Linked DNA regions of Homo sapiens: region 2 is linked to region 1. Evidence: fine-mapped expression QTL. A gene starts in region 1. The other region holds a variant in brackets. All regions are shown on one strand. Distances are from middle to middle. Region 1 holds the start of MIR3142HG (MIR3142 host gene). Region 2 has its middle 5.8 kb from the start of MIR146A.

Evidence for each region.
Region 2: its variant is fine-mapped to the expression of MIR3142HG in whole blood (TOPMed, PIP above 0.99).

Annotation. Positions count from the first base shown.
Region 1 is chr5:160,466,494-160,469,410 of GRCh38, reverse strand. It overlaps MIR3142HG (MIR3142 host gene), which reads right to left and starts at 1,160. Exons shown (of 2, transcript NR_132748.1): 1 at 971-1,160. RefSeq lists enhancers at 1,056-1,215, 1,246-1,475, 943-1,579, 1,580-2,216.
Region 2 is chr5:160,489,728-160,492,644 of GRCh38, reverse strand. No RefSeq gene overlaps it. Among named protein-coding and RNA genes, the nearest start is that of MIR146A, 5.8 kb to the right of the region's middle. The variant G/A (reference allele first, on the strand shown) is at 1,317.

The DNA.
Region 1 (2,917 bases):
TGAGGTCAGGAGTTCAAGACCAGCCTGGCCAACGTGGCGAAACCCTGTCTCTACTAAAAATACAAAAATTAGCCAGGCATTGTGGCGCGCATCTGTAATCCCAGCTACTCTCGAGGCTGAGGCACAAGAATTGCTTGGACCCAGGAGGCGGAGGTTGCAGTGAGCCGAGATCTTACCACTGCCCTCCAGCCCGGGCGACAGGCCGGGAGCAAGACTCCATCTCAAAAAGAAAAAGAAAAAAAAGAAAGAAAGGACACTGAATGTGAAGGTCTCAAATGACAAGAAAATACCGTAATACAATAATTAAACCCATTGAGGCATCAAGAAAGAAAAGTGACACTGTTTGCCAATTAGTATACAAGTCAGGTTCAGTATGTAAAAGATTCTTTTTAAAAAAATAGAAAATTTAAAAAAAATTCTTACTATCCAAAGACAAGATTGAAATTGAGAATAGGAACACAATAAACAAAAAGTAATAGCCATAGTCTTCCAACCCTGAAACCTCCTAAGAGCACCATATTTACTGTCCAATATTTTCATGCTATTGTCACTGCAAGAAAGTTTATGACTTGCTAAATAGAGACCACAGTCTACAACTCCAGGTTTAAAGCATATTATTTTATCATCCATAGAGATTCTAAACCACTTCCTGACCCCACTCTATCCCCCCCCACCCTGAAAATAACAAAAGGTTAAAAATATGTCCCTTTTGAAAATGGAGCCACATCTTTACTAAAGCACTGGAAATATCTCCAAGTCACTGACATTTTTATATTTCTAGACCATGACAAAAGTCTCACCTACTTGATTCTAATGTCATTTCAATATGCCTTAAACATCTTGATTATATCTTTAATGTGCCATTTACTCTGCAATAATCCACTGTACAAAAGCCTGCTGCCTCTCAAACAGAAGATAAGTACATAATAAATCAGCTTGCAATGATTATTTTTTCCCAGCTCATACTCACAGCGAGCTCCTAAAATTTCATTTTATTTTATCATTTCCAATTCAGCCGCTGTTCTCCCCCTCCTCGTTGTGCTACTGTCTCCTGTCCATCCTGTCCACCCTTTGGCATGCCTTCCGGCCCAGGGTTTACCACTCCAATCGGCCCTGCTGGTGCCATCCAGGAAAGGAAGAGCGGTCAAGCGTCTTGGAGAAAGAGCATCTTTCTGGAGAGACTCTTATTTGCTGGGGTAGAGGAAGGCAGCTAAGGCCTATTTGCATATGCTTTTATTCCATTTCCACACCCTGCACGCTAACCCTCTCTGGAAAGTCCCTTCTAGATCCCTCCTCGGCACAGCGAGGGAGGAAGAGGCTGGGCCGGAATGGAAGGTTCCAGCCTGGCAGTGTCAGCTTCTCTCCGCGGAGCTGAGGGGGAAGCCTCCACCTTCCCCATCATGCGTGCAGGGTCTGGACCCCCGGGTCGGGGACCCTCTTGCAGCACGTGTCAGGAGCAGCCTGGTGCTTTGGCCTGCGCGCTCTAGAGCGTTCTGTGCAGGATGCGCCTGCTCCCCTGCAGCCTCCCCCGAGGAAGTTCTGGTCAGGCGCTGGGTCCCCAGGCTTCCTGTCTGTACTCTCCGCAGCCCCGCGGGGAAATCCCGAGAGCTTTATCGGCTGCCCAATGAGCCTGTTGGCTTTTCAAGTGCGCGCAGGCTGAGTTTCAGCCAAAACCTCAATTTAAACGTTAACCAAAAATAAATAAATAACATGTGTGCAGGCATTTAAAAAGAGAGACTGCCTTTGGGGAGAAGATCAGGCAGAAAGCTCCCTTGTTTCATTGCTGCAGATACACGAGGCCTGGATTTGCTCACCCTTTGAACAAAGGGATTCTTTGAACTGTAAACTGACCTGGCAGGCGGAACACTGAGAAATCTTCCTGAGCACCTTTCTCTGGAAATGTGAACATTCAAGGCAGTCTTGTGTGTCAGCTAAAGAGAACAGTCATAGCTAAATTTTAATGGGCACCTACTAGGCACCAGGCACTCTGCTAAATGTATCACGTGCATCATCTTCCCTAATCCCACAGCAATCATCCATAGCAGGTAGCCCGAATTATTATCTCCATTTTGTGATCCCCTTTTACTCATAAGGGAATTTTATCTTTGGTGAGGTTAGGGGGACTTGCCTAAGGTCACACAATTAGTAAGTGTTTCCATGGGTGCCCTTAGCTGCTCCTTTTCCCAAACTGGAAAGAACGTACAAGGCCTTTGGAATGTGCAACTGCAAATTCAAATTCCCAGTCGAGAAAATATAGCTTCCTTTCCTTGGTCACGTGCTCATGGACCGAAAAAGACCAGCTCAAAGGATTTTGCTTCCAGGCAGATGTAGTCACTTTCCTGACCTCCCCTGAAGGTTTTTGTTGCTTATCTTGCTGAGCTCCCAAAAGGTTTGTTTGAACGTCTACTATAGATAACGTTTTTAAAAGCAAATATTTATTGAGCAATTGTTATACACCAGACACTGTTCATAAAAACATGTTCTTATTTAATACTCCTAAGAACCCTAAAAAGCAGATACTATTCTTAGATTAGAAATGAGGAAACCGAGGTTCCAAGAGAGTCGAAACTTGCCAGAGTTCACATAGCTAGAAAATATCAGAGCCAGGATTTGAATTGAGGTTTCCTGTCCCCAAATCTCTGAACCTGGTACACTGCATTACTCTGCCTCTCAAGGGGTCCACATCAAAACTATTTCCTTGTGTGAGATTCTCTCCCATTGGAAGGGAGTTCCTTGGGGGTTTGGGGTGGACCCAGGTATCTGAGTGGGCTCTGGGCATACCTTCAAGCACTCCAGCATCTGCTGAAACCGGGTGGGTTGATGGAAGGGAGGAAGCATAAGGGTGACCAGAAGAGTTAAGGGCACTCTTAACACATCCCATGTTGTATTAAGGAGTAAGCAACCTATTTGTGAAGTT
Region 2 (2,917 bases), 23 kb before region 1:
ACCATAATCCAAGCCAGAGATGTGATATACACCAATTCTTAGCCAATGGTTGGCCCCTGTATGAAATTGGCTGCTAGGAAAAATAAGACCAACACTTGACCAGCGCTGATATCTTGTGGTGGCTATTTGTCTTGGTCAGCTTGTACTACCATAACAAAATACCATAGAATGGGTGGCTTAAAAAACAAATTTGTTTTCTCACAGTTTGGAAGCTAGACGTCTGAGATTAGGATGCCAACATGGTCAAGTTTGGTGCCTTCTCACTGTGTCACCATGGGGGGTGGGGGTGGCGATGGGGTAGGAGAGAGAGAGAGAGAGAGATTGAATCTTCCTCTTCCTATAAGGCCATAGTCCTATGGGTCTTAGGGCCCCACCCTTATGACCTCATTTTACCATAATGACCTCCTAGACCCTATCTCTAGATACAGTCACACTGGGGGGTTAGGGCTTCAACATATGAATTCTGGGGGACATAACTTAATCCAGAGCAAAAGTGATTCCCAGGCCAGGTGCAGTGGCTCAAGCCTGTAATCCCAGCACTTTGGGAGGCAGAGGCAGGTGGATCACTTGACATCAGGAGTCAAGACCAGCCTGACCAGCATGGTGAAATCCTGCCTCTACTAAAAATACAAAAATTAGCCAGCCATGGTGACACATGCCTGTATTCCCAGCTACTTGGGAGGCTGAGGCACGAGAGTCACTTGAACCCAGGAGGTGGAGGCTGCAGTGAGTTAAGATCATGCCACTGCACTCTAGCCTGGGTGACAGAGTGAGACTCTGTGTCAAAAAAAGAAAAAGAAAAAAGTCATTCCCAAACCTCTCTTCCACTCCAGAGGCTGAAAAAGTTAAAACATTCATTTTCCCAGTCTCTTCTGGAGTTGGCAGTGGTCATGAAAAACACAATAATGCATGAGTGGAATTCTGCTGGGGAGATGAAGGGGGTTCTGGAAAGAAAATGTGCTTTCTTGATAAAAGGAGCGGATGTGACCAGTCCACACCATCTGTTTCTCTCTCTTCCTCCCCTGAATCAGGATGTGATATCTATGGCTTTTGCAGCCACTTTAAAACCAAGAGGCACAGGAGAAAATTTCTGCAGTGACAACAGCCTTGATGTCACTGAGACTCTAACCCAAATGCTAGTAGTAGTTGCTCATATTCAGACTGGCTAAGAACAAATAAATGCCTATTTGTATATGGCTCTGTAAGCTGAAGTTTTGCTAGACACAAATGAATGTGCTATGATACTTACCCTCTGTGTATGTCTGTGATATCATCTATATAATGGGAATAATAACTATCTACTGTTGTTGTGGGAG[G/A]CGGGGGCTTTAATGAGAAGCTGTTCAAAGTATTGAAATAGAGATTGGCACATAGTAAATCCTCAACACTAGCACCGTTATGTAGTAATACAAGACACATTTATTTATACTGTTTTTTACACTCCTAAAATCATCACAATTAATTCTCAAATAAATGCAAACAAGAAGCTAAAGGAAATAGAGACAGATATGTGGGGACAAAAAATAGCAGCAGATTTAGAGTCAGGAGACCCAGGTTCAGAATGTCTGATAATAAGGAAATGATCATGTAAACAAAGGCGCATCCAGCCCATGAACTGCATATGCACCCATTTAAAATAAATAAAAAGACCATGCAAGGACATGAAGAAAAGCATACTATAAAATGTTAAACAACAGAACACAGAACACAGATACACAAATTAAAGATAATCCCAATCGTGTAAAAGAAAAAAAAGTGAAAATGAAAAGAAATAACCCAAAATGGTAATCTATAAGTGTATAGATAACTTTTTTCTCCTATGATTTTCTGAATTCTCTAAATTTCCAGTAAAAAAAATCATAATTTCATAATTTAAAAATTTTAATAACTTCAAATTTTCTCTTTTATACTTTCCCATATTTTCAAACTTATTTGCCATAAATTCATATTACATATATAAGAAGAAAAATAAGTTTTAAAATAAGGAAATATGGCCAGGTGTGGTGGCTCACAACTGTAATCCCAGCACTTTGGGAGGCTGAGGCAGGTGAATCACTTGAGGTCAAGAGTTCCAGAGCAGCCGGGCCAACAAGGCAAAACCCCATCTCCACTAAAAATACAAAAACTAGTCAGGCATGGTGGTGCATGCCTGTAGTTCTAGCTACTCAGGAGGCTGAGGCAGGAGAATTGCTTGAATTCGGGAGGCAGAGGTTGCAGTGAGCCGAGATCGCACCGTTACACTCCAGCCTGGGTGACAGAGAGAGACTGTCTCAGAAATAAAATAAATAAATAAATAAATAAACATGTGCTGATCAGAGACAGTGGAATCTGACCAGTCTTAGGAGCATTGCAGGACCCAAAGAAAAAGCACATATGGCTTCTCAATTGTCACATATTTTAAAGTATAACTGTGTCCTTGGGGTGGAATTGGTCATGGACGGGGGCTCACTCCTGCTGACCAAAGGCACAGGTGGAGGAATAAGTCAGAGTGGGCCTCAATGCATGCTCTTCTGTTTTCAGTCACACTGCAGAAACAGAGGCAAAAGATTTTTTTTCTTTCCTTCCTTCTAAGTTCATGTATATTTGTATACATTTTTTAAGTAAAAATGATCTTTTTGCTATAGGGATTTTGGTTTTGAGGCTCCACGTCACCAGTTACCAGCTATATGGCACGGGGCACAGATACGTTGCAAAATCTTTTGAAAATTCCACTTTCCTATCTCTAAAATTAGGATTATGAAAAGAGCTATGGCCAGGCACAGTGGCTCACGCCTGTAATCCCAGGACTTTGGGAGGCTAAGGCAGCCAGATCACTTGAGGTCAGGAGTTCGAGACCAGCCTGGCCAACATAGCGAAACCCTGTCTAGTAAAAAATACAAAAATTAGCCAGGCGTGGTGGTGGGCACCTGTAATCTCAGCT